Linked DNA regions of Homo sapiens. The protein of the gene in region 1 interacts with the protein of each later gene in a biochemical or structural test. Each region holds a gene or a part of one and is shown in the gene's direction. Other genes may lie near its edges. The genes, in order: ESR2, CCDC62, DAP3, PIAS2, BCAS2, NLRP6 and REXO4.

The links.
Region 2: the proteins of ESR2 (region 1) and CCDC62 form a complex in vitro, tested with the Homo sapiens proteins (one study listed by IntAct).
Region 3: the proteins of ESR2 (region 1) and DAP3 form a complex in vitro, tested with the Homo sapiens proteins (one study listed by BioGRID).
Region 4: the proteins of ESR2 (region 1) and PIAS2 form a complex in vitro, tested with the Homo sapiens proteins (one study listed by BioGRID).
Region 5: the proteins of ESR2 (region 1) and BCAS2 form a complex in vitro, tested with the Homo sapiens proteins (one study listed by BioGRID).
Region 6: the proteins of ESR2 (region 1) and NLRP6 form a complex in vitro, tested with the Homo sapiens proteins (one study listed by BioGRID).
Region 7: the proteins of ESR2 (region 1) and REXO4 form a complex in vitro, tested with the Homo sapiens proteins (one study listed by BioGRID).

The regions. Positions count from the first base shown.
Region 1 is NC_000014.9:64,287,487-64,291,866, reverse strand, and holds part of ESR2 (estrogen receptor beta), read left to right. Parts: intron 1-4,380.
Region 2 is NC_000012.12:122,823,072-122,826,571, forward strand, and holds part of CCDC62 (coiled-coil domain-containing protein 62), read left to right. Parts: intron 1-294; coding exon 295-348; 3' UTR 349-388; intron 389-3,347; exon of another isoform or gene 3,348-3,350; coding exon of another isoform or gene 3,351-3,398; 3' UTR 3,399-3,500. UniProt on the Homo sapiens protein: Nuclear receptor coactivator that can enhance preferentially estrogen receptors ESR1 and ESR2 transactivation.
Region 3 is NC_000001.11:155,734,091-155,736,800, forward strand, and holds part of DAP3 (small ribosomal subunit protein mS29), read left to right. Parts: intron 1-2,710. UniProt on the Homo sapiens protein: As a component of the mitochondrial small ribosomal subunit, it plays a role in the translation of mitochondrial mRNAs. Involved in mediating interferon-gamma-induced cell death. Displays GTPase activity in vitro.
Region 4 is NC_000018.10:46,826,625-46,831,004, reverse strand, and holds part of PIAS2 (E3 SUMO-protein ligase PIAS2), read left to right. Parts: intron 1-1,137; coding exon 1,138-1,271; intron 1,272-2,874; coding exon 2,875-3,046; coding exon of another isoform or gene 3,047-3,062; exon of another isoform or gene 3,063-4,380. UniProt on the Homo sapiens protein: Functions as an E3-type small ubiquitin-like modifier (SUMO) ligase, stabilizing the interaction between UBE2I and the substrate, and as a SUMO-tethering factor.
Region 5 is NC_000001.11:114,568,983-114,572,141, reverse strand, and holds part of BCAS2 (pre-mRNA-splicing factor SPF27), read left to right. Parts: intron 1-1,391; coding exon 1,392-1,442; intron 1,443-2,069; coding exon 2,070-2,150; intron 2,151-3,159. UniProt on the Homo sapiens protein: Required for pre-mRNA splicing as component of the activated spliceosome. Component of the PRP19-CDC5L complex that forms an integral part of the spliceosome and is required for activating pre-mRNA splicing.
Region 6 is NC_000011.10:276,597-281,573, forward strand, and holds the start of NLRP6 (NACHT, LRR and PYD domains-containing protein 6), read left to right. Parts: upstream 1-1,810; 5' UTR 1,811-1,973; coding exon 1,974-2,002; intron 2,003-2,730; coding exon 2,731-3,011; intron 3,012-3,237; coding exon 3,238-3,276; intron 3,277-3,487; coding exon 3,488-4,977.
Region 7 is NC_000009.12:133,415,211-133,419,186, reverse strand, and holds the start of REXO4 (RNA exonuclease 4), read left to right. Parts: upstream 1-1,176; 5' UTR 1,177-1,342; coding exon 1,343-1,567; exon of another isoform or gene 1,568-3,525; intron 3,526-3,976.

The DNA.
Region 1 (4,380 bases):
GCTACCTGAAATTGCATATTATCAAATAGTGAGAAGCAAAACAGGGATTGAAAATGACAAATTGAAGACATTTAAAATGCAGAGTGATTACAATTGCTGAAGGTAAAATATTTATCTTCATAGGGGCTTAGGTCTGTGTCCAACTTATTTGTAGATGTCAGGATTTTTAAATTTCTGTGCTCATGTCTTGAAGTCTAGATTTTCCTGCAGGGTGGAGATGTATAACCTTTTGTAAACTAATATTTTTCACTGTTTAACACAGTATTCAATTCAGTATACAGTTAGGAGCCTGTTATTGGTAGGTACTGCTAACATATATATATATAAAATTGATGTCTTTTTCCTTTTTCCTTTGTTCTATGAAAAACAGCCTGTATTTTAAATATGTAACTTACCTTGCATACCCAGTTACAGTGGTAGTAACTAGGATATGCAGAGTGGCAAGTTTATGAGGAGCTAGCAAACTGGATAGTTGGCCTTCCTAGCTGGAATTATGACAGGTCTTGAAAATGAAGGGCTTTTAGTGGAGAATCTTTGTGTGGGTGTACTTGAGAGAGGGCAGGAGAGTTAGGGTGACCTAGAAAGATAGATTGCTGGACTTGTATATGTTTCCTCAAAGCCAGACTGCAGCATTTTGTTAGTAAATTGTTGTGTGTTCTACTGTCAAACCCAGGCCTGGAAGGGGAGTTGAGTGCATTCAGCCTAACTTCTGGATTGGCTGTGTCATCTTGAATCCCTTCACTCGGAATTCTCTCTGACCCTGTCCCAAATGAATATTTGAATTTGGTCCAGTTCCTACAGAGCATGGTCTGTGGCTGTTGTTGGTGTTAGGGAAGAGCAGAAACTTGCTGTTGAGAGAGAAGACACTTGAGAAGACTGATGAACTCTCTCCCACCCCTGCCTTCGAGGCTTGGTCCTCCTACCCTATTCAAACCCTTGAAACTCTTTCCTATCCAACTAAATAAGCGCCAATTGGTTACTAGGAGAATTAGCTTTTCCTCATTTTAGAAGGAAACAGGGTTTCCTTATGTACATGTTCTTAAGAATTACATGCAAATCAGTTATTAATGATGAGTTCTCTGGTGATTTTGGAGTGTTTTATCTTCCTAATATTAAATTAATTGAGGGCCTTAATATTTTGTTTTGAAAGAATATATTTAAAAAGGCTGGGTGTGGTGGCTCACGCCTGTAATCTCAGCACTTTGGGAGGCCTAGGTGGCTGGATCACTTGAGGGCAGGAGTTCAAGACCAGCCTGGCCAAATAATGAAACCTTGTCTCTGTTAAGAATACAAAAAATTAGCTGGCCATGGTGGCTCAAGCCTGTAGTCCCAGCTACTCAGGAGGCTGAGGCATGAGAATTGCTTGAACCTGGGAGGCCGAGTTTACAGTGAGCCGCGATCATGCCACTGCATTCCAGCCTGGGCAACAAAGCAAAACTCTATCTCTAAATAAATAAATAAATAAATAAATAAGAATACATTTAAAGATAATAATTGGCCAGGTGTGGTGGTTCATGCCTGTGATCACAGCACTTTGGGAGGCCGAGGTGGGAGGATTGCTTGAGGCAAGGAGTTCAAGATCAATCTGGGCAACACAGTGAGACCCTATCTCTACAAAAATTTAAAAATCAGCTGGGCATGATGGTGCATGCCTTTAGTCCCAGCTACTTGGGGGGCTGAGTTTGGAGGATCCCTTGAGCCCAGGAGATCAAGGCTGCAGTAGGCCATGATCTTGCCACTACACTCTAGCCTGAGTTACAGAGCTAGAGTATAACCCCCACCCCCCAAAAAAGCTAATAATTGTCAAACAGCTACTTATGCACATCAAGGATGCTTGTTGCTTAAGAAATCTTTTTAAATCTTTTCCATGAAATTCCTTCTAGTTGCTGCTTTGTGAGCGTGAATTTTTTACTTCTGCAGGACACACAAATGTGGAGCATTTGAACTGAATGCTTGGGAAAGTGTGATGGGCAGGTGGAAGAAGAATAGGGATGAGGACTTATCCTCTATTCTTATCCTCCTAGACTTATCCTCCTAGTCTGCAAGCTTGAGAATATGGCATCAGGAATATGTGGCATTTTGTCCACACACACAGTGTTGGCAGGCTACCAGCAGCCCAGCTATCTGGACTAGGGGTGATGGATTTCTGTGGACAGAAGTCAAAAAGTAAAATTAGGAGGCAAAAATCTTCAGGGTGGCCATAAAGACATTGTAACTTGTCTGGAAATTCCAACCAACACTAAATGTGTATCCAGTGATATACCAATAGACTGGCTTCATCTTCTTGGATGTGTAATAATACCTTACAGAATGCTTTCTTTTTTTTTTTCTTTTTCTTTTTCTTTATTTTTTTTGAAATGAAGTTTTGCTCTTGTTGCCCAGGCTGGAGTGTAATGGCACAATCTCAGCTCACTGCAACCTCCACCTCCCAGGTTCAAGCGATTGTCCTGCCTCATCCTCCCGAGTAGCTGGGATTACAGGCATGTGCCACCATGCCCGGCTAATTTTGTATTTTTAGTAGAGACGGGGTTTCTCCATGTTGGTTAGGCTGGTCTCAAACTCCCGACCTCAGGTGATCTGCCCACCTTGGCCTCCCAAAGTGCTGGGGTTACAGGCGTGAGCCACTGCGCCCGGCCTCAGAATCCTTTCACAGACATCATCTCATTTCACCCTCAGAGCACCGTGAAAAGGTACAGCACCAAATAGGTACCTGATTCTACTGAAGAAGATGTGGCAGCTCAGGGAGTTTGTGGATTTGTCTAAGATTGCCTGGCTTTCAGGCAGAGCTGGGGCTAGAATGAATGTTCTGCTCTATCCATTGATAGAATATACATAAGAACAGGCTTGATGGTGGCTGACCTTTTTTTTTTTTTTTTTTTTGAGACAGAGTTTTGCTCTTGTCACCTAGGTTGGAGTGCAGTGGCGTGATCTCGGCTCACCGCAACCTCCACCTCCTGGGTTCAAGCGATTCTCCTGCCTCAGCCTTCTGAGTAGCTGGGTTTACAGGCAAGCGCTGCCACACCCGGCTAATTTTGTATTTTTAGTAGAGACTGGGTTTCTCCATGTTGGCCAGGCTGGTCCCGAACTCCTGATTTCAGGTGATCTGCCCACCTTGGCCTCTCAAAGTGCTGGGATTACAGGCATGAGCCACCCGCGCCCGGGTGACTGATTTCTTATTAACTAGATTTACAGGTGCTTTGATAAAAACCAGTCTAGTCTTGGCTGGCACGGTGGCTCATGCCTGTAATCCCAGCACTTTGGGAGCCCAAGGCGGGCGGGTCACGAGGTCAAGAGATCAAGACCATCCTGGCTAACATGGTGAAACCCCGTCTCTACTAAAAAATAGAAAAAATTAGCTGGGCATGGTGGCGGGCACCTGTAGTCCCAGCTACTTGAGAGGCTGAGGCAGGAGAATGGCTGAACCCGGGAGGTGGAGCTTGCAGTGAGCCAAGATTGCACCACTGCACTCCAGCCTGGGCAACAGAGCAAGACTCCATCTCAAAAAAAAAAAAAAAAAAGTGTAGTCTTTTTGGAGTGTTTTTCTGCCATTTCTAGGGCCAAACTTTTTCTTGTCCATGAATCATTGTCAAAATTGGGAATTTTAAATACTACTTTTTTCTTTTAATTCAAAAGCCATAGTATGTTTCCCAGCCAGTACATTAGAACACCATGCACGATCCCATGTGTACAAAAAGCTTTCTGGCTGAATTCAGATGTGACCTGAGAGGGCCAAATACAGGGGTGTGTGCTGGGAGAGAGAGAGAGGTCTCTGGACAGAAAACAAAGCCTGTTCACCACCCAGGATATGGACCAACTATTTTAGGTTATGGTGACTAAAGAAAATTGACATGCAAATAAATGAATAATTCTTAGAATCAGGATGTCTGGGTACTGGTTCTTTGGTTGGCCAGGTGAAATTCCATGCCAGGCCCAACAATTAAACTCTTTAGAGACAATTTTTTCCTGTTGTACCAGAACATTGTACTGAGGCCATGTTTGAACATTCAATCGATGTGTTGGGAAAACTCTGCCCTACAATGTTAAAGAAATTAAATCTTTTGGGGAGTCTTTCCTTTGACCAGTTTATATCTCTGTTTTAGAGGAGGGCTTCTCAACCAGAATGGGTTTGTTGACTTATTTTTACAGACCTCTGGTAGAAAGGAGGTCTTTTTTTGCTACCTGTTCTCCTGTCTCAGAGAACTATTACAATGGTGTAAGTTCATCATTTCTTCCCCTTATTATGGCTCTGCTTAGGAAGAAAAACTCTTTGCATTGGCTACCAAGTACCTAACTATTCAAGATGCCACTGACAAAGAGTTAATCTGTGAATCATGTGAATCTGATATATCTGAAATATATCCAAACAAAAAGCACCTAGCC
Region 2 (3,500 bases), on another chromosome or scaffold:
CACCTCAGCTTCCCAAGTAGCTGGAATTACAGGCGGGCGCCACGATGTCCAGCTCATTTTTGTATTTTTGGTAGAGATGGGGTTTTGCCATACTGGCCAGGCTGCTCTTGAATTCCTGATCTCAAGTGATCCGCCCACCCTGGCCTCCCAAAGTGCTGGGATTATAGGCATGAGCCACCACGCCCAGCCTCATCTAACATCTCTTAAAGGCATTTCTGCTATATTTGTGTTTAGTCTTCTTAAGAATTTTTTAGTTTCTCTATCCTGAATACTAATCTGGGAGTTGTTTTCTAGAAGTCAGAGGTCCCAGAAGAGTCAGCTCAAAAAAATACCTTTGTCAGTTATTGAAGGAAACAAAAGGCAACTTCAGTATTCATCGTGATCACGAGTAAGTCACCTTTGCTTATCTCACCTTATATCTCAATTAATATTTAATAAGTAACTTGGGAACATCGATAACGTTGAGTCAAGGCCATGCATTTGTTTGACTTGTAATACTTTCTCTTTTGCTCGACCAATTTATGCATACTTCTAAATTTAATCAGAGTAAAATGTCAATTACTTGCAAAGAAATGCAGATCAAAAAGTTCTCCTGCACTCCAGCCTGGGAACACAGTGAGACCTTGTCTCTTAAAAAAAAAAAAAAAAAGGCCGGGCGTGGTGGCTCACACGTGTAATCCCATCACTTTGGGAGGCTGAGGCGGCTGGATCACGAGGTCAGGAGTTCGAGACCAGCCTGGTCTGTCACTACTAAAAATACAAAAATTAGCCAGGCGCGGTAGTGGGCGCCTGTAATCCCAGCTACTTGGGAGGCTGAGGCAGGAGAATCACTTGAACCCAGGAGGCAGAAGTTGCAGTGAGCCAAGATGGCACCACTGCACTCTAGCCTGGGCAACAGAGCAAGACTCCGTCTCAAAAAAAAAAAGTTATTATTCTCAATACCTAGAATTTTAAATCTAGGGAAGTGAATACATAGACACAGCTTTAAAAATCAGAATCTAATATGAAAAGATGTTCAACATCACTAATTATCAGGGGAATGCAAATCAAAACCACAATGCGGGCCGGGCGCAGTGGCTCATGCCCATAATCATAGCACTTTGGGAGGCCAAGGCGGGTGGATCACTTGAGGCCAGGAGTTTGAGACAAGCCTGGCCAACATGGTGAAACCGCGTTTCTACTAAAAATACAAAAATTAGCCAAGCATGGTGGCGGGCACCTGTAATCCCAGCTACTCGGGAGGCTGAGGTAGGAGAATTTCTGGAACCTGGGAGGCGGAGGTTGCAATTAGCCAAGATTGCACCATTGCACTCCAGCCGGGCGACAATAATGAGACTCTGTCTCTAAACAAACAAACAAAAAACCAAACAAACAGAAAAACCACAATGCAGTACCACCTTACTCATGCAAGAATGGCCATAATTTAAAAATCAAGAAATAATAGATGTTGGCATGGATGTGGTAAAAAGGGAACACTTTTACACTGCTGGTGGGAATGTAAACTAGTACAACCCCTATGGAAAACAGTGTGGAGGTTATCCATAAAGAACTAAAAGTAGAACTCCGATTTGATCCAATAATCCCACTACTGGGTATCTACGTGGAGGAAAAGTATATGAAAAAGACACTTGTACACACATGTTTATAGCAGCACAATTCGCAATTGCAAAAATACGGAACCAGCGCAGATGCCCATCAATCAACTAATGGATAAAGAAAATGTGGTATATGGGCCAGGCATGGTGGCTCATGCCTATAATCCCAGCACTTTGGGAGGCCGAGGCAGGCAGATCACCTGAGGTCGGGAGTTTGAGACCAGCCTGGCCAACATGGTGAAACCCTGTCTCTACTAAAAATACAAAAAATTAGCTGGGTTTGGTGGTGCATGCCTGTAATCCCAGCTACTCAGGAGGCTGAGGCAAGAGAATCGCTTGAACCCAGGAGGCGGAGGTTGCAGTGAGCCGAGATCGTGCCATTGCACACCAGCCTGGGCAACAAGAGTGAAACTCAGTCTCAAAAAAAAAAAGAAAAGAAAAAAAATTATAGCTGAAAAAAAATCAAAATTAATGTTTTAGCATTTCATCTGTCTGTCCAGAAAGAAGTTTTTTGTTTGTTTGTTTTTGAGTTGGAGTCTTGCTCTGTCGCCCAGGCTGGAGTGCAGTGGTGCAATCTCAGCTCACTGCAACCTCCACCTCCCAGGTTCAAGCGATTCTCCTGCCTCAGTCTCCCAAGCAGCTGGGATTACAGGTGCGCATCACCACACCTGGCTAATTTTTTTTTTTTTTTTTTTTTGAGACAGAGTTTTGCTCTTGTCTCCCAGTCTGGAGTGCAGTGGTGCGATCTCAGCTCACTGCAACCTCCGCCTCCCGGGTTCAAGCGATTCTCCTGCTTCAGCCTCCCAAGTAGCTGGGATTACAGGCATGTGCCACCATGCCCGGCTAATTTTTTTTTTTTTTGTATTTTTAGTAGAGACGGGGTTTCGCCACGTTGGCCAGGCTGGTCTCGAACTCCTGAGCTTAAGTGATCCGCCCGCCTCGGCCTCCCAAAGTGCTGGGATTAAAGGCGTGGCCCCCCACGCCTAGCCAAGAAGTCTTTATGTGGAGTAAAGTTTTATAAAAGTTTTACATGGGGTAGCTGGGCGCGGTGGCTCACACCTGTAATCTCAGCACTTTGGGAGGCCGAGGTGGGCGGATCGCCTGAGGTCAGGAGTTTGAGACCATCCTGGCCAACATGGCGAAACCCCGTCTCTACTAAAAATACCAAAAAAAAAAATTAGCCGGGCATGGAGGCGCATGCCTGTAATCCCAGCTACTGGGGAGGCTGATGCAGGAGAATGGCTTGAACCCGGGAGGCGGTGGTTGCAATGAGTGGAGATTTGGCCACTGCACTCCAGCCTGGGCGACAAGAACGAAACTCCGTCTCAAAAAAAAAAAAAAAAAAAAGTTTTACATCGAGTAAAATCTTCATAAAAACGTGTATTGACCCAGTAAGCACTTTCTGGATTTGTGTTTACTTCTATCAAACCTGCATTTCATATGCGGTTTCCTCAGAACCCAGTTTGATAAGCTAAAGCGTACAGGCATTTCGGATCTTTTCAAGGTAAGCATATCAGCATTTCAAAGACACTGGGGAAGCAGAGAGCCTGAGCAGCGCCGTCCCCGCCCCCATCCCTCCTCCTCTCCCCTCCCTCTCTCCGCTGAGTTTTCATATTTATAGTATTTTGCATGTCCTGATGTTGATGAAAATCAGGATGTAGAGTTAATATTTTAGACGCCAGGAGCTTATAGCATGCTCTCCAATATTAATTGATTGTATTTTATTAATGTTGTGTTTTCTTCATCCAAAAGCAGATTTCTCATCTATGTGGAAGGCAGAAAGCAGACACCAATACTGAATGAATACTTAACCGTAAAACTGAAAGAGGATTCTAGTTCTTCATAAACGGCACTTAATTCCAGCTGGGAGCAGAACTAGAAAGTTAATTTTTAAACATCTACACT
Region 3 (2,710 bases), on another chromosome or scaffold:
AGGCTGTAGTGGGCCCTGATTTTGCCAGTGTACTCCAGCCTGGGCAATAGAGTGCGGCCCTATCTCAACAGGAAAAAAAGCTCCTTCAAGCTAACTTCTATATCCTTTTAAAATGTCCCCATCATTATTTTTTTGGAGATAGGGTCTCACTCTGTCACCCAGGCTGTAGTGCAGTAGCACCATCATAGCTCACTGTAGCCTTGAGCACATGCCACCACACCCAGCACTGAATGTTGTCTTTTTCTTTTCTTTCCTTTTTTTTTTTAGAGGCATGGTCTTAACTATGTTGTTGCCTAGGGTGGTCTTGAACTGCTAGCCTCAGGCAATCCTCCCACCTCGGCCTCCTAAAGTGCTGGGATTACTGGCGTGAGCCACCATATCCAGCTCCTATCATTCTTTGACCACTTCTTTATTTTCTGTCATGAGAATATGTTCCAGACCCCTCTTATACTTCCCATGCCCAGCCCTGGAATCTCCATTTCTCCAAAGAGCATTGGCTTATTTTAGAGGAGACTGGTATTTAGCAACCAAGGCCTGAGTCCTAGGTATACTCACTGCTACTGAGGTGTCCTTTCTCCTAGGCCCTCACAGCAAAGTTCATAAATAGATGTACATACATACATGTATGTATGTATATGTGTGAACCATATGCATATACATGTTTATACACATCCACACACATCTGCGTTTGTTTCTCTAATCATATTAAAAAACTATGAGTTCCTACTAGTAGCCAATTCCATGCTACCATCACAGCAGTCATTATACCCTTTCCATATCTGTAACTCTAATCTAAAATAATGAGAAATCTGCTGCCAGTAGCCATAGTATATTTACTTATTAGCTCAATACTAGAATATATGAAAAGTAGTTTCAGATTTGATAGCTCTCAGGCTGGGCGTGGTGGCTCATGCCTATAATCCCAGCACTTTGGGAGGCCGAGGCGGGCAGATCACGAGGTCAGGAGATCTAGACCGGCCTGGCCAACATGGTGAAACCCCGTCTCTACCAAAAAATGAAAAAAAAAAAAAAAGAAAAAAAAATTAGCCGGGCGTGGTGGGGCGCCTATAGTCCCAGATACTCCGAAGGCTGAGGTGGGAGAATCGCTTGACCCTGGGAGGCAGAGGTTGCAGTGAGCTAAGATGTGCCAATGCACTCCAGCCTGGGAGACAGTGAAAAAGAAAGAAAAAAATAAGTTCCTTGGGCCGGGCGCAGTGGCTCACGCCTATAATCCCTGCACTTTGGGAGGCCAGGGCGGGCGGATCACCTGAGGTCAGGAGTTCAAGACCAGCCTGGCCAACATGATGAAATCCTGTCTCTACTAAAAATACAAAAAATTAGCTGGGCATGGTGGTGCAGGCATGTAATGCCAGCTACTCGTGAGGCTGAGACAGGAGAATCGCTTGAACCCAGGAGGCAGAGGTTGCAGTGAGCCGAGATCGTGCCATTGCACTCTAGCCTGGGCAACAGGAGCAAAACTCAGTCTCAAGAAAATGAAAAAAAAAAAAGAAATACAGTTTGATTACTTCATTTGTTTCCATTTGTTTTCCATCTAGCGTATTTTTTCCCATTATTTTTATTTTTTATTTTATTTTATTTGAGATGAAGTCTTGCTCTGTCACCCACGCTGGAGTGCAGTGGTGCAATCTCAGCTCACTGCAACCTCCACCTCCCAGGTTCAAGTGATTCTCCTGCCTCAGCCTCCCAAGTAGCTGGGATTACAGGCACGCATCACCACGCCTGGCTAATTTTTTTTTTTTTTTTTTTTTTGAGATGGAGTCTTGCTCTGTCACCAGGCTGGAGTGCAGTGGCTTAATCTCGGCTCACTGCAACATCCACCTCCCGAGTTTAAGCAATTCTTCTGCCTCAGTCTCCCGAGTAGCTGGGACGACAGGTGCATGCCACCACGCCCAGCTAATTTTTGTAATTTAGTAGAGATGGGGTTTCACCATATTGGCCAGGCAGGTCTTGAACTCCTGACCTTGTGATCTGCCCGCCTCAGCCTCCCAAAGTGCTGGGATTACAGGCATGAGCCACCGTGCCCGGCTAATTTTTGTATTTTTAGTAGAGACAGTAATTTTGTATTTTTAGTATTTTCACCATGTTGGCCAGGCTGATCTCGAACTCCTGACCTCAGGCGATCTGCCCTCCTTGGCCACCCAAAGTGCTGGGATTACCAGCATGAGCCACCATATTCCTTTGAAAATATGAAACATTAACTTTGTTTCAAAAGCCAAAACTGTCCAAAATACATACACACAATATGTGTGTGTGCGTGTGTATGTGTGTGTATTCACACAAGTAGCATCCGCCTCCTCAAGCATTGCCTTTTTTTTTGTGTGTGTAGACATGGTCTTACTCTGTCACCCATACTGTGACAGTATGTGTAGTGGAGCAATCGCAGCTCACTGCAATCTCAACCTCCTGGTCTCAAGCAATCCTCAGCCTCCCGAGTACCTGGGGCTAGAGGCACGCAGCACCACTCCTGGCTAATTTTTGTATTTTCTGTCGAGACAGGGTTTTACCACATGGCCCAGGCTCGTCTGGAACTCCTGGGCTCAAGCAATATGCCCATCTCAGCCTCCCAAGGTGCTGGGATTACAGGTGTGAGTCACTGTGCCCAGCCACCTCTTTTTAATATATAGCATTTGTGGCCACGTAGAGCACGAGTAGCCAGCCACCATATGTGGAGTCCATATGTGGAGTCCTG
Region 4 (4,380 bases), on another chromosome or scaffold:
TAATCTTGTATTGTGGGAATGAACCCCATTTGGTCATGATTTGTTATCCTGTGTATATTTGTTGTTGGATTTGTTTTGCAGAGTTCATGGGGGAATGTTGGGTATTTAGTTTTGTTGCAATGCCTGCCTGGTTTTATTATCAGAGTAATGCTGACCTTGTACAATGAGTTGGAAGTAGTGGTATTATTTCTCCTCAAATATTTGGTAGAATTCCCTAGAGAAGACATTGGGCCTAGGATTTTCTTTGTGGCAAAGTTTTTAACTACAGATCCAACTTATTTAATAGACATAGGGCTTCTTAGATTATCTGTTTCTTTTGGAGTGAGTGTAAATAAGTTTGACTAGAAACTGATTTTTCTGTTTTTCTTTTTTTCTATTTGTTTGTTTTGTTCTTTGTTATTTCTCTTTTCTTGCTTTTACTATAATTTGCTTTTTTTTCTAGTTTCATAAAGTTACTGATTTGAGACTTTATTTCTAATTAGGGAAGATTAATGCTATAAATTTTCCTTTAAATACTACTTCAGTGTTTAAATAATACAGTCCACAAATTTTATTACATTTTTATTTTCATTCAGTTTAAAATCTTATTTTTATCTTTGACTCATGTTTCTTTTGTTTAGTTTCCAAGTTTTCAGGTTTTTCTGGTACGGACTTAATTTGAACTTAATTCAAATACACTTATTTTAAATTTATTGAGACTTCTTTTATTTCCCTTTTCTTCCCTCCTTCCCCTACCCCATTATCCTTTTTTCTCGAAGTTAAAGTTTATAAATTATTTTACTATATAGTAACCTTTATCTGCTGATGTTTGTTTTTTGTGCTGTGTTAGAGGTTGTTCTTACTGCCAGCCTCAGCTAGGAGGCTCCAGGTATCTACTTCTCTCTAGCCATTTATACTCATTGAGTTACACAGGTGATGCTCAGTAAGTTACTTAACTATTATGTTGCCTGTTACAGATTTAAAACATAGGACAAAGGGAGTGTAATAATTGTTGTAAAGTATAAAGTATTGCAATACCAAAAGAAAAGGGGGTCAGCTAACATTACTTATGTTTTCAAGGTAATGTGTATTACTTTCTTATTTCACCTTTAGGCAAAGCTGTTGATCACATGTATGTACTTCTTAATTGTTTTTTAGGCTTTTTATGGAAATTCTCAATGACTGTTCTGATGTAGATGAGATCAAATTCCAAGAAGATGGTTCTTGGTGTCCAATGAGACCGAAGAAAGAAGCTATGAAAGTATCCAGCCAACCGTGTACAAAAATAGAAAGTATGTGTAGAATAGCAGCAGAGAGTAAAGCAGTGAGACTCGTGCAACATTATCATTAATCTTGGCCCCTAGAACTATACGTTTGGAATTCAGCTTGTTGACTCAGTCTTTTGATGATATATAGTTTTCCCCCAAATGATTTTTATTCTTTCCTGAAGGAATGTGCTAAAGTTTATACCATCTTATCAGCTATTTCATAGTATATTTTTCCTGTGTAGAATAAAGGAAACATTCATCTAAAATCATTTTAAAATATGATGTTTGTTACAAAACAAAAAGTCACAAATGAATTTATATGGACAGTTTTTCAGAATTGTTCTTAGAGTATCTGTAGGTGGAACCCTAGGTGGAGGTGAGGTTAGAGAGGCTGCATCATTGGTTAATGGCCTTGGTGGTTTGGGGATGGTCACAGGTTAGTTGCTCAGAAAGTAAACAAATTGTTACCTTCCATTTCTTTGTGGAGAAGAATTTTAACATTGCCTTGATTACCTAGAATGTATACTCATCCATCAACTGCCTGCATCCATCCACACTAAGTAGGGAAACTGAGGGCATTTGGAGTAATTGAAACGCACAGGTGAACTTAGAGTTTCTTTTTATCTAACAGTCTCATTGAAACCCACACGTGAACTTAGAGTTTCTTTTTATCTAACAGTCTACTCACTGCATTTCAGTTTTGTTCTGATTACATTTGAAGTTCTAACAAACAATGTAATGAATGGAGTAAGAAGAAAGGGGAAAAAATAAAGGATTTATGCCATTATTAATTATTCCTCTGCGATTGACACTAAACCTGAGTGCAGTGACCAAGGTTTCTCTCATCTTTCAGAAAAATGGGGAGTGATTTAGTTGATAAGTTTCTGTTGCTTTTCCATTATCAACTGTCATTCATTTTTAACTAAATACATTACAGATAATAACATACTTTTCTGTGAAAATGTGAGTTAACAAATATGGTATGTGAGACTGTCTTTGTGGGTAGAAAGAACCTACGTGATTAGCAGATAATTCATAAGAAAAGTTTAAATGTCTTAGTAACTTAATTGAGAGGTTTGGGTTTTTTTCAACTTATCAAGATGAAAGTTTTTATCAAGTTCTGGCTTATGGTGAAAAGTCTGTACTTTCTTTGATATAAGCATAATTGCTAGAATGGAAATATCTGGTTCTGAGCTAACTGTGCCACATGTGTGCGAGAATACATAGCTGTTGAACTCACCCATTCTTGTCCCATGACCTGAGACCAGTTCCCTAACTCTGCGTGTCTTTCTGTAAAACGACTGCTGACCTGCAGAGACAGGATGAGCAGTAGGAGCTGCACAAATCCTTCAGTGGTATTGGAGGCATAACTAAGAACATTCTGTCTGAATGAGACTTCTAACCATCTGTCAAGGAATAGTGCTCACCTGTCTCCCTAGGTGAACAACCATTTTACAGACAGAGGTCTGGAGTTAGGGAGTTGGTATTTGTCCATGGGTTGGAGTATGTGGCTTCACTGGCTATATGTTGTCAGGAACATACTATACTGAATATACTAGACTCTACCACTAGAGTTTATTTGTGTTATACCTTTAATTTTTTTTTCCTTTTGTTTCTTTACATGCAGGTTCAAGCGTCCTCAGTAAGCCTTGTTCAGTGACTGTAGCCAGTGAGGCAAGCAAGAAGAAAGTAGATGTTATTGATCTTACAATAGAAAGCTCTTCTGACGAAGAGGAAGACCCTCCTGCCAAAAGGAAATGCATCTTTATGTCAGAAACACAAAGCAGCCCAACCAAAGGGTTTGTTAATTTATAGTTCACTATTGTTCATTACCCTTGCAACTAATTGCTCTTGGATAGATTTATAAATGTCTCTTTGGGAAATGGCATAACTGTAGAAGGCTATTTTAATTTGCCTTTGTTGAGTTGAAATATTTTCGAGTAAGCACATTGTTTATAGGAAGCAAATTTTGATGGAGAAAATATTTACATCTTTGGAAAGTGAGCGTGTGAGGTATTTATTTCCTACCTGAGACTTTTTGTTATTTTCTTGAACCTGTTTGTAAGGAAATTTGGCATCTCAGACCAGATGAGAAAGTCTGGTGTAATGGAGTGTGGAACTGGGAATCTGACAAGTATGGATTCCAATTTTGGCACACCATCGCTTACTTGTTCTGTGATCTTAGATGAAATACTTAATTTGATTGAGCCTCTTTTTTGTGTTCTGTTAAATGGAGCTAAATAACGCCTATATTACAGGATCATTTTCAGGTTTTAATGAGATGAAAGAAAGCCTCGGTGTCAGGCATGTGGTAATTTCCCAATAAAAATTGATTCCTTTCCCTTTTCACCCTCTCCAGGGCAAAATATAGGTGGGTAGGATGGCATTCTACCTGAATTTTAGCGTGGATTCTCTGTAAGTTATCTGGCAGAAGGCATTACTGACCTGCATTAAAAATCAGGTTTGGGTATTTAACAATAGTTGCTTTTTCAGAGAGGTTTTGAACCATAAAAGGAGATAACAGGAGAGTTCTCCTGGCTGTCTACGAACACATTCTTTCAAACTTGGGTTTGCTAGTGTCATCTTTTTGGCCTCTTGGTCCACTTGGTTTTCTAATGGCTTTACTGAGTTATAATTTACATAGCATAAAATGTACCCATCTTAAGTATATAATGGCACAATTCAGTGATTTTAGTAAATACATAGAGCTGTGCAATCATCACCATGATTCAGTAGTAGAATATTTTCAACACCCAAAAAACTTTCTTCATGTTCTTTTGTAGTTTATTCCTATTTACACCCCAAATCTAGGCAATCGTTTTTTTGTGTCTATAATGCCTGTTTAGACATTTTATATAAAATGTCTTGTTTTGCAACATTGTTTATTTTTATAATTTTAAGAATTAAACCTTTTCAGCTGCCTTCTTTGCTGTTAAAATACTTACATTTCCAAATATAATTTACACATATATTAAAGGCATATATTTACTTCTACCCATTTAATTAGAATGAGGTGGGGTTTTTGTGTGTGTGGAACAAAATGAGGAAGTATTTCAAGTGGATTTTTTCCTGGTGTGCCAATCATTTATTGCTCCTTTGAGACAAATTGGTTGGTACATCTGTAATTTAAATG
Region 5 (3,159 bases), on another chromosome or scaffold:
GGAAACAATATTAGATTTAGAGCAAGAACACATTAGGGCCAGATGTGGTAAAAATGGACCCTGTAGGTGATTGATCCACTGCCTTAAGAGGAAATTGATATGATGTGGAATTATATCTTAATAAAGTTGTTATTTAAACTTAAAAAAGAGATTAAAATCTGTTTCATTACTTCTCTAAAATAATTATATGGTACTCTGTATTATTGAACTTTTCCCCTGTGCTAGTTACAGCTGACCTGGACTGGTATCTATTTTTTATTTTGCTATGCATATGTTACATGCAAATATGGACTGATATCTCATTCTACAACAGTTTTCTTTTTCTCACCTCTCTCTAGTTAGCAGTAGACAGGAGGAGAGAATGACAAGGTGAATGTATATGCAGAAATATAGAGATAAAAGGGGGTTGAGAAATAAAATAAGTGGGTACTCAGATATATTCCATCTTTTCTATGACAAGAAGTCATGACAGTTTAAGAAGTGACAAAAGGCCGTGTGGCTCACACATGTAATTCCAACACTTTGGAGGCTGAGGTGGGGAGATTGCTTGAGCCCAGGAGTTCAAGACCAGCCTGGACAACGTGGTGAAACCCTGTCTCTACAAAAAAGTAATGAAAATTAGCCGGGCATGGTGGCTTATGCCTGTAATCCAAGCTACTTTGAAGGCCTGAAGTGGGAGGATCAGTTGAGCCCAGGAGGTTGAGGCTGCCATGATTGCACCACTACACTCCAGCTTGAGCAACAGGAGAGCAAGACTCTGTCCCTCCCCTCCGCAAAAAAAAGCTGGGTACAGTGGCTCACGCCTGTTATCTCAGCACTTTGGGAGGCCGAGGCAGATGGATCACTTGAGGTCAGGAGTTCGAGACCAGCCTGGCCGACATAGTGAAACCCCATCTCTACTAAAAAAAAAAATACAAAAATTAGCAAGGCATGGCAGTACATGCCTGTAATCCCAGCTACTTGGGAGGCTGAGGCAGGAGAATCTCTTGAACCAGGAAGCAGAGGCTGCAGTGAGCTGAGATCTCACCACTTCGCTCCAGCCTGGGCAACAGAACGAGACTGTCTCAAAAAAAAAAAAGTAACCTAAGTACTCCAAGATCAGGCAGGGCATGGTAATCCCAGCAGTTTGGGAGGCCAAGGTGGGAGGATTGCAGCTCCTTGGGAGGCTGAGGCAGGAAGATTACTTGATCATGGGAGGTGAAGGCTGCAGTGAGCCATGATCACACCACTGCATTCCAGCATGAGTGACAGTCCTCGATTATGGAGTGTCCAACATAGTTCTTGGCACAGAGCTCCATAAATATGATTTTTGGCAGAAAAACTTGAAAAAGTTCACTTTTAATTGGTACTATTTTAATGTATTTTAATCTGATTTTCCTCTTTTCCTTCAGAAATCTAGTTCATATGATTGAACACGCACAGAAGGAACTTCAGAAGTTAAGGTAAATTGTTTTTTCCTATTACAGAATGAAGTTTAAGTGAACCTTTAATAAATAGAAAATAGGAGGAAAAAGAAAGCAAAGAGACTGCAGCCAGATGAAAGTAAACAATTGATCCACTCTCTTTGTTCAACATCTGACACTGGGTTTGCCCTACCTAAGTAGAGGAGAAATAGGCCTGAGGTCTGAAAACATCTCTGCCACTTGCAGCTTGCAAGTCTGCAAACATAGAAAGGCACTTTTAGAGTGGGAAAAGTTGCAGAATAACACATATAATCTGATTTTTAAAACCAATTTCTACACACACATATAGGAAAGCCTGGAAGGACACCCAGCAAAAACTCAACAGGAGTTATCAGGAAAAAGGAGACATGCATGAGAGGGGGGACTTGAGACTTGTAATCTGTGTGTGCTTGTGTGTGTGTGTGTGTGTGATTTCTCACAATGAGCATGTTTTATGAAACTTGTAATCAAAAAATAATTAGAAGAAAGGTAATTTCTACAGTTAGCCTATAACTGTACATAATATTGTTCTCATGGGATTAAGATATTCTCTTGTGTTATAGAGTTTTCTGTTGATTTAGGTCTTACATTAAAATGTAATTGGGTTGTATAAATAATTTTTTACAGAAAACATATTCAAGATTTAAACTGGCAGAGAAAGAACATGCAACTCACAGCTGGATCTAAATTGAGAGAAATGGAGTCAAAGTGAGTATCTATAATTCCATCATCTTTTAAATTGTTTAGCCCTTTCTAAGGTCGATTCAATAATATGATTCAAATAGCATTCAAATGGGATGCCACAGGTAACAAAGAAATGCTATTTTCTGAATTCACCCTTCCCCGTCTCTGCCTCTTTATAAGGTGTTAAAGAGAACTATAAACGAGAATTGAACCATTGGCGAAGGATCCTTTGCTAAATTGAACCATTGCTAAAGGATTCTGGTCTTAGAATACCCTGTTTTTAGTCTAGTATTTTTGGCCTTGAATAGAACTCTACCTTTATTCTCCTTTTAAACGGAAAAAAAAAAAAAATAGGCACGGTGGCACATGTCTGTAGTCCCAGCTACTCTGGAGGCTGAGGCAGGAGGATTGCTTAACCTGGAAGGTTGAAGCTGCAGTGAGTCATAATCACACCACTGCACTCCAGCCTGGGCAACAGAGCAAGACCTAGTCTTTAAAAAAAAAAAAAGGAAAAAAATTATTTTATAAAATCTTGTAGGGAGGGAGATTTCATACTTGGTAATTTTTTTGTACCTCAGGTTTATGCATTTTTAAAAATGTTCTTTTACATACACACATGTATACCTTTATACAATATAATCTTGAATATTTGTGTCATTTCTCTCTTCCTTTTTGCTTGGCCATTCCCTTTCTCCCTTCATTACTCAAGTCATTCTTGTTCCACCGTCTCCATGTACGTCTTACCAGTCTCGTTGGTACCCTTTCACGCTTTTTCCTCAATTTAATAAACTATTGCCTCTTTCCTTTTTGTTGATTAAATACTATCTTCATCACTCTTTCCTCTTTCTTCTGGTTTGCAAGTTCTCTCATCTGTTTCTAATTTGCTTTTTTATTAAACTTTTATTTTTAGATAATTATAGATTCACATGCAATTGTAAGAAATAATACAGAGAGCCAGGTGTGGTGACTCACATTGTAATCCTAGTGCCTTGGTAGGCCAAGGTAGGAGGATTGCTTGAAGCCAGGAGTTCAA
Region 6 (4,977 bases), on another chromosome or scaffold:
AGTTGGGAAGCATTCCCTTGAGAGCTTTTCTTTGTGGGAAAGTTTTTTTTCCCTGTAATTAGTAATTCAATCTCTTTACTTGTTATAATTTGTCTTAGTCTATTCTCACATTGCTGTAAAGACATACCTGAGACAGGGTAATTTATAAAGAAAAGAGGTTTAACTAGCTCCTGGTTCTGTGGGCTGTACAGACTTTTGCTTCTGGGGAGGCCTCAGGAAACTTACAATCATGGCAGAAAGCAAAGGGGAAGCAGGCAAATATTCATGTGGCCAAAAGGACAGAGAGAGCAAAGTGGGACATGCTACACACTTTCAAACAACCAGATCTCATGAGAACTTACTCACTATTACAAGAACAGCAAGGACGAAATCCACCTTCATGATCCAATCACCTGCCACCAGGTCTCTCCCCCAACATTGGGAATTACAATTCAACATGAGATTTGGGTGGGGACACACAGCCAAACTGTTATCAGAAAGAGGTCTTGATCCAGACATCATGGTTCTTGGATCTCATGCAAGAAAGAATTTGAGTCAAATCCATAAAGAGTAAAGTGCCAGGCATGGTCGCTCACACCAGTAATCCCAGCACTTTGGGAGGTCCAAGGCAGGCAGATCACAAGGTCAAGAGTTCAAGGCCAGCCTGACCAACATGGTGAAACCCCGTCTCTACTAAAAATACAAAAATTAGCCAGGCATGGTGGTGCATGCCTGTAATTCCAGCTACTCAGGAGGCTGAGGCAGGAGAATTGCTTGAACCCAGGAGGCGGAGTTTGAAGTGAGCCGAGATCGTGCCACTGCACTCCGCCTGGCGACAGAACGAGACTCCATGAAAAAAAAAAAAAAAAAAAAAAGAGTAAAGTGAGAGCAAGTTTATTGAGAAAGTAAAGGAATAAAAGAATGGCTATTCTATAGGCAGAGCAGCCCCAAAGGCTGCTGGTTGCCCATTTTTATGGTTATTTCTTGATTATATGCTAAACGAGGAGTGGATTATTCATGAGTTTTCCAGGAAAGTGGTGGGCAATTCTCAGAACTGAGGGTTCCTCCCCTTTTAGACCATATAGGGTAACTTCCTGACTTTGCCATGGCATTTATAAACTGTCATCGTGTTGGTGGGAGTGTCTTTTAGTGTGCTAATGTACTGTAACTAGAGTAATGAGCTGTGAGGATGACCAGAGGTCACTCTCATTGCCATCTTGGTTCTGGTGGTTTTGGGCCAGCTTCTTTACACCATTATCAGCAAGGCCTTTATGACCTGTATCTTGTGTCAACCTCCTGTCTCATCCTGTGACTTAGAATGTCTACCCTCCTGGGAATGCAGCCCAGTAGGTCTCAGCCTTATTTTACCCAGCACCTCTCATTTCCACATATTAACCCCCCCGTTCCACACACTCTCACATTTGGTCCCAGGGGTCTCGAACACCCCTGACGTCCAGCCTCTGCCCGCCAGCTGTTCAGGTCGGGTGGGGAGGCTGCAGTGCAGACCCCTGCCCGGCGTCTCCCTGGAGACTGCCTTCCCTCCCATATATGGTGCGTGCTGCTGGCTGTCCCCCCTGTTCCCTCTACCTGGAAGTCTTTCCTCACCCCTGCCTTCAGAGTCTAACCTCTCCCCAGGCCTCAGCTGAAGGCCTGGCTCTGAGCCAGCCACCTCCTTCACACAACCCACCTTGCTCTGAAGCTGCCTGCTCACAGCCATGCCCCGATGCCACACCCAGGGGTTCTTGGGGAACATTAATGGGATAAAGGAGTAAGAAAATCAAAGGTCACCAAACGGAGCCCTTAAAGGGCAATGCTCTGCGTGTGCCACGGTGCCCAACAGCATCTCGTGCCAGCTGAGCTGCGGTGTGTGGACCCGGGGAATGGACCGGGCTGGACAACCTCTAAGACTTGGCTCCAGCTCAGCCTGTGAAGGAATCACCTCTCTGATCCCCACCTCTGCCCCGGAGTGCTAGACCCAGGGAGGAAGAGACCCCATGGACCAGCCAGAGGCCCCCTGCTCCAGGTGAGTGCTGGCCCCAGGGTGGTCACTGGGAACCGGCTGGTCTCAGCCCTCTGGGGCCTCCACCTCACCCGCTGACTTCCTCAGGCTCTCCACCCTTGTCCACATCCTTCCCCCACCCTCACTCCCAGGCTCAGGAGCCAAGCACTGCCTCCCCACAGAGGGCATTTGTGGAGTCTGTTCCCCACCAGGGGCTCAGATTCAGGCCCTGGTGCAAGGCCCCAAGCTGGGCCCCACCAAAGTGTGGCAGGGGTGGGGGCCCAGGAATACAGCCTGGGCCTGGCAGTGTCTGCTGCCAAAGAGGCCAGTTCTGCTCCGGGATCGGGAAGAGAGGGAAAAGAAGGAAAGCGAGGAAAGAGAGCTCAGGGTTCCTTGGAAATACCTCCCTCGGGGCATGTGACCTGTCCTGGGGTGTGGAAGGACAGAAGCAGAAAGGGAGGTGCAGGGGAGGAAGGTGCCCCCCAGAGCTCAGATCAGCGGCGGCCAGTGCCCACTTCACCCTCAGAGGGCGAAGAACACCAAGACGCCCCGACCCGGGTCCGGGGACGGGGGAGGGAAAAGTCTGGGGTCACTCCCCGTTGCCCCCTCCCGCCACCCCATGGATCCAGACGATGCTTGGCCCGGGACTCCCTGAGGCCCTGCCCGCGGTGGGTTCTCCGGCGCCAGAGTCGGGGGCGGGCGGGGGTCACCCGAGGGCCGCTCCCCGATGACCCGCGCCCGCCCGCCTCCAGCACGGGGCCGCGCCTCGCGGTGGCCCGCGAGCTGCTCCTGGCTGCGCTGGAGGAACTGAGCCAAGAGCAGCTGAAGCGCTTCCGCCACAAGCTGCGCGACGTGGGCCCGGACGGACGCAGCATCCCGTGGGGGCGGCTGGAGCGCGCGGACGCCGTGGACCTCGCGGAGCAGCTGGCCCAGTTCTACGGCCCGGAGCCTGCCCTGGAGGTGGCCCGCAAGACCCTCAAGAGGGCGGACGCGCGCGACGTGGCGGCGCAGCTCCAGGAGCGGCGGCTGCAGCGTGAGTTCTGCGCGGGAGGTCCCTCCTGTCTGGGCAGAGGCTGGGCTGCCCTCCTTCCCGCTTCCCGGAGAAGCCCCGGCGCGGTCCCCGGCCCCCGCGCGTTTTATCCACAAATTCGCGGGCCCCAGGGGTAGGACCCTGCGTGCTCCTCAGGGTGACTCGGACCCCCGTGGCGCCTTCCCCTGTTCCCGCCCTCGGCGGAACCTCACCCCAGTTTCCCTTCCAGGGCTCGGGCTCGGCTCCGGGACGCTGCTCTCCGTGTCCGGTGGGTCTCTCGCTGGGGGGGCACGAGTGTCCCCAACCCCACTTGGAGGGTCCCGGGGAGGACCGGGGTGGGAGGGCCGCCAGGGGCGTGGGCTGTGGTCCCGTAGAGGAAACTGAGGCCTGAGCAGGGCCGGGGAGGGCGTGGGCTCCCGGAGGGCGCAGCCTGCCCCACCTCCGACCCTTGTCCCCGCGCTGTCTCCCGCTGCGCCCAGAGTACAAGAAGAAGTACCGGGAGCACGTGCTGCAGCTGCACGCTCGGGTGAAGGAGAGGAACGCCCGCTCCGTGAAGATCACCAAGCGCTTCACCAAGCTGCTCATCGCGCCCGAGAGCGCCGCCCCGGAGGAGGCGATGGGGCCCGCGGAAGAGCCTGAGCCGGGGCGCGCGCGGCGCTCGGACACGCACACTTTCAACCGCCTCTTCCGCCGCGACGAGGAGGGCCGGCGGCCGCTGACCGTGGTGCTGCAGGGCCCGGCGGGCATCGGCAAGACCATGGCGGCCAAAAAGATCCTGTACGACTGGGCGGCGGGCAAGCTGTACCAGGGCCAGGTGGACTTCGCCTTCTTCATGCCCTGCGGCGAGCTGCTGGAGAGGCCGGGCACGCGCAGCCTGGCTGACCTGATCCTGGACCAGTGCCCCGACCGCGGCGCGCCGGTGCCGCAGATGCTGGCCCAGCCGCAGCGGCTGCTCTTCATCCTGGACGGCGCGGACGAGCTGCCGGCGCTGGGGGGCCCCGAGGCCGCGCCCTGCACAGACCCCTTCGAGGCGGCGAGCGGCGCGCGGGTGCTAGGCGGGCTGCTGAGCAAGGCGCTGCTGCCCACGGCCCTCCTGCTGGTGACCACGCGCGCCGCCGCCCCCGGGAGGCTGCAGGGCCGCCTGTGTTCCCCGCAGTGCGCCGAGGTGCGCGGCTTCTCCGACAAGGACAAGAAGAAGTATTTCTACAAGTATTTCCGGGATGAGAGGAGGGCCGAGCGCGCCTACCGCTTCGTGAAGGAGAACGAGACGCTGTTCGCGCTGTGCTTCGTGCCCTTCGTGTGCTGGATCGTGTGCACCGTGCTGCGCCAGCAGCTGGAGCTCGGTCGGGACCTGTCGCGCACGTCCAAGACCACCACGTCAGTGTACCTGCTTTTCATCACCAGCGTTCTGAGCTCGGCTCCGGTAGCCGACGGGCCCCGGTTGCAGGGCGACCTGCGCAATCTGTGCCGCCTGGCCCGCGAGGGCGTCCTCGGACGCAGGGCGCAGTTTGCCGAGAAGGAACTGGAGCAACTGGAGCTTCGTGGCTCCAAAGTGCAGACGCTGTTTCTCAGCAAAAAGGAGCTGCCGGGCGTGCTGGAGACAGAGGTCACCTACCAGTTCATCGACCAGAGCTTCCAGGAGTTCCTCGCGGCACTGTCCTACCTGCTGGAGGACGGCGGGGTGCCCAGGACCGCGGCTGGCGGCGTTGGGACACTCCTGCGTGGGGACGCCCAGCCGCACAGCCACTTGGTGCTCACCACGCGCTTCCTCTTCGGACTGCTGAGCGCGGAGCGGATGCGCGACATCGAGCGCCACTTCGGCTGCATGGTTTCAGAGCGTGTGAAGCAGGAGGCCCTGCGGTGGGTGCAGGGACAGGGACAGGGCTGCCCCGGAGTGGCACCAGAGGTGACCGAGGGGGCCAAAGGGCTCGAGGACACCGAAGAGCCAGAGGAGGAGGAGGAGGGAGAG
Region 7 (3,976 bases), on another chromosome or scaffold:
CATCAACCTCTGCCTGTTACACACGCACATCAAATCTACCCACTCCCGGCCGGGCACGGTGGCTCACACCTGTAATCCCAGCGCTTTGGGAGGCCGAGGCGGATGGATCACTGGAGGTCAGGAGTTCAAGACAGCCTGGCCAACGTGGCGAAACCCCAGGTCTACTAAAAATACAAAAATTGGCAGAGAGTGGTGGCGTGCACCTATAGTCCCAGCTACTCAGGAGGCTGAGGCAGGAGAATCGCTTGAACCCAGGCGGCAGAAGTAAGGGAGGAGACCACCCCTCATATTGTCTTATGCCCAATTTCTGCTTCCAAATAAAGAAGTAAAAACTAAAAGGCAGAAATAAAATCCACAGGCAGACAGCCCGGCGCCGCGCCCTGGGCCTGGTTAAAGATCAATCCTTGACCTAACCGGTTATGTTATCTATAGATTTCAGACATTGTATGGAAAAGCATTGTGAAAATCCCTGTCCTGTTCTGTTGCGTTCTGATTACCGGTGCATGCAGCCCCCAGTCACGTACCCCCTGCTTGCTCAATCGATCACGACCCTCTCACACAGACCCCCTTAGGGTTGTAAGCCCTTAAAAGGGACAGGAATTGCTCACTCAGAGAGCTCGGTTTTTGGAGACGTGAGTCTGCCGATGCTCCCCACTAAATAAAGCCCTTTCCTTCTACAATTCGGTGTCTGAGGGGTTCTTGTCTGCGGCTCGTCCTGCTACAGAGTGAACTGGCAGGAACTCCTCCCGGTGCCTGGGCCTCAGTTTCCCCACTGTACGTGGAAGATGAGCCGCTGTGAGGCTGAGCAAGGAGCAGCCCAAGGCGGGAAAGGCTCGAGAGTCCAGGACGCAGGCGAGCGACCTAGCCCGGCTCTCACTAGCCCCACCGCCCAGTGCCCCCAGCTCAGCTGCCCTACCAGGTGCTACACACACAGCGGCCCCCCAGTTCCCTTCCGGCGTTCGCATCTCTCATCCCCATCCCGGATCTTGGGGAGGTCCTCGGCTTGCCCCAGTCAAACTCGAGGTCGATGACCCCGGATGCCGCTGGCTAAGGCGGCGGCCCAAGTCCCGTGCGGGTGAACCGCCCAGGCTGCGCGGAACCAGAGGCAGGGATCCGGTTTCCAGCCGGTTGTGGAGAGACGAGCGCTTCCGGGGACTGGAGCGTGCGTGCTGAGGTATGCGCAACGCGTGCGGGGTCTCTTCCGGAGTCTTTTCCTGGACGGGGTCCCTGCGGTGGGTGTGTTTCGGCCTGGCCTGGGCAGGCGCTTGTGCTGCCAGGGCGCCGGGCCCGGGGAGGCCGGGGTCTCGGGTGGCCGCCGGCCCAGGCGCTGGACGGCAGCAGGATGGGGAAGGCGAAGGTCCCCGCCTCCAAGCGCGCCCCGAGCAGCCCCGTGGCTAAGCCGGGTCCTGTCAAGACGCTCACTCGGAAGAAAAACAAGAAGAAAAAAAGGTTTTGGAAAAGCAAGGCGCGGGAAGTAAGCAAGAAGCCAGCAAGCGGCCCCGGTGCTGTGGTGCGACCTCCAAAGGCACCAGAAGACTTTTCTCAAAACTGGAAGGCGCTGCAAGAGGTGAGGCTTGAGGGGGCCCGGGCGGAGCGCTGCGCAGCTCATTCCCGCAGAACGCGACGGAGGGAAAGACTTGGGTAGCCCCAAAAGACCTGTAAAGGCAGATTTGAATCGAAATCTTGTAAACAGCTTTTCACAAGAAAGGTGGCCTGTTGAGGGAGGTCTCGAACTTGTTTGCTTGAAAGAAATTGATGAAAGAATTATTTCAAGTACAAAAAAGCAAAGATAAACCCTTGTACCTTTTGCATAATGAACTAACTAGAATGGATTTTACAAAGAGAAATTTAGCTTAAAATCCCGAAACCAGGCCGGGCGCGGGGCCTCACGCCTGTGATCCCAGCACTTTGGGAGGCCGAGGCGGGCAGATCCCCTGAGGTCAAGAGTTCAAGACCAGCCCGGCCAACATGGTGAAACCCCGTGTCTACTAAAAAAGTACAAAAAATATTAGCCGGGCGTGATGGCGCGCGCCGGTAGTCGCAGCTACTCGGGGAGCCTGAGGCAGAAGAATCGCTTGAACCCGGGAGGCAGAGGCAGTAGTAAGCCGAAATCGCGCCACTGCACTCCAGCCTGGGCGACAGAGCGAGACTCCATCTCAAACAACAACAACGAAAGAACACACTGGTCTGTGTAGCAAGACAGGGAGAAAGAAGATTCCTGTGTAGAAGTGAAAAGCAGATAGCAGACATGTGATGGGGTTCTAGCGACACTTACGGTCTTGAAGTAAATACTAATTGAGCTCCTAAAAATGTGCACTCTGCCATGTGCTCTATGCCATGCGTGTTGCAATCCCCACAATAAGACTGTGAGGTGGACACTTCCATCATCGCTATTGTACAGATGAGGAAATAGGCTGGAAAAGTTTAAATAGATCATCTAAGATTGCGGCTGGGAACCAGGTGGCTGACTCTGGAGTCCATGCTTTTAAGGCTGTGTTGTACCTGCTGTCTCCCTAGTGACCTGCACTTCTGTAGAGGTTGCCTGCTCTCTCCTAGACACTCTTCCACGTGCGTCACTCATACATTCTTACCACATCCCTTGGAGCTCCCTTGGAGCTACCTCCTGTTAGGATCATAGCTCACTGCTGCCTGGGCTCCAGTGATTCTCCTGCCTCAGCCTCCCGAGTAGCCCACACGTGTAATCCCAGCACTTTGGGAGGCCCAGGCAGGAGGATCACTTGAGCTCAGGAGTTCAAGTCCAGCCTGGGCAACATGGTGAGATTCCATCTCTAAATAAAAGTAAAAAGTAGTTTTTTTAAAAAAGAAATGTGATCCCCAGTGGTGGAGATGGGGCCCATAGGAGGTATTGGGTCATGGGGGTAGATCCCTCATGAATGACTTGGTGCCCTCCCCTCAGTAACGAGTAAGTTCTCACTCTGCTGGTTCATTTGAGAGCTGGTTGTTTAAAAAGAGCCTAGCACCTTTTTTGCTTGCTCTCTCACCACGCAACACACCTGCTCCCCCTTCACCTTACACCATGATGGGAAGCTTCCTTCGGCCTCACCAGAAGCAGATGCTGGCACCATGCTTCTTGTACAACCTGCAAAACCATGAGCTACATAAACGTTTTTTCTTTATAAATTACCAAACACAGGTATTCCTTTATAGCAGTGCACAATGAACTAATACAGATGGGGTTTCACTTTGTTGCCCAGGCTGGTCTTCAACTCCTGACCTCAAGCAATCCTCCCACCTCAGCCTCCCCGAGCGCTTCTTGAACCTCCTAATACTCTGCACAGTATCTCAGTGCAGACATTCCTGTCTTAACACACAGGACCAGTCAAATTCCCGTGGGCAGCCCCAGGGTTCTGTGGGATTTCTTGAACACCAACTCTTCTTCCTTCTCCCAAGAAAGAAAAGCAAAATAAGTGAATGGAAGGGATGTGTGCTATAGGGAAACTTTGGAGTGTTTTCTAATTCATCCAAGAAAGTCAGCCCTTCAGTTCTTTACCTATCACAGAACAGGTAAGTAGCACCCGCCTCATCATCGCACTGTGGTGGCGCCCACTCCCACTGGGGATTTGAACACAGGGAGGAAGCTGGGCTCTAAGACTACAGGAGCCTCTGCTTGGGTGACAGCCAAGGTGTGTGGCTGCTAGCAGTTCTTCAGCCACTCCAGTTTGACAGAAGCTTTTCTTTTCATTTATGACACCCCCCACCTTCCTGAGATCTTCACAGCAGTAGCAAACCAGGGAATCTTGTAAAAAAAAAAAAAGCGATTTCTGTGTAGCAGGATGTTGGCCCAAGCTGTGAGGGAAGTTAACTCCAAAATTCTTTCTAGATAAGCTGAAAAGGGAAGTGGTCTGTGGTGTCCAGCCACTCAACAGGTACCCAAGGTGTAGAATGAGTTTGACATTTTGTATGCATGAAGGAGCAGGTGCAAAATGCATTATAATAAGATAAGCAAAGAAACAGC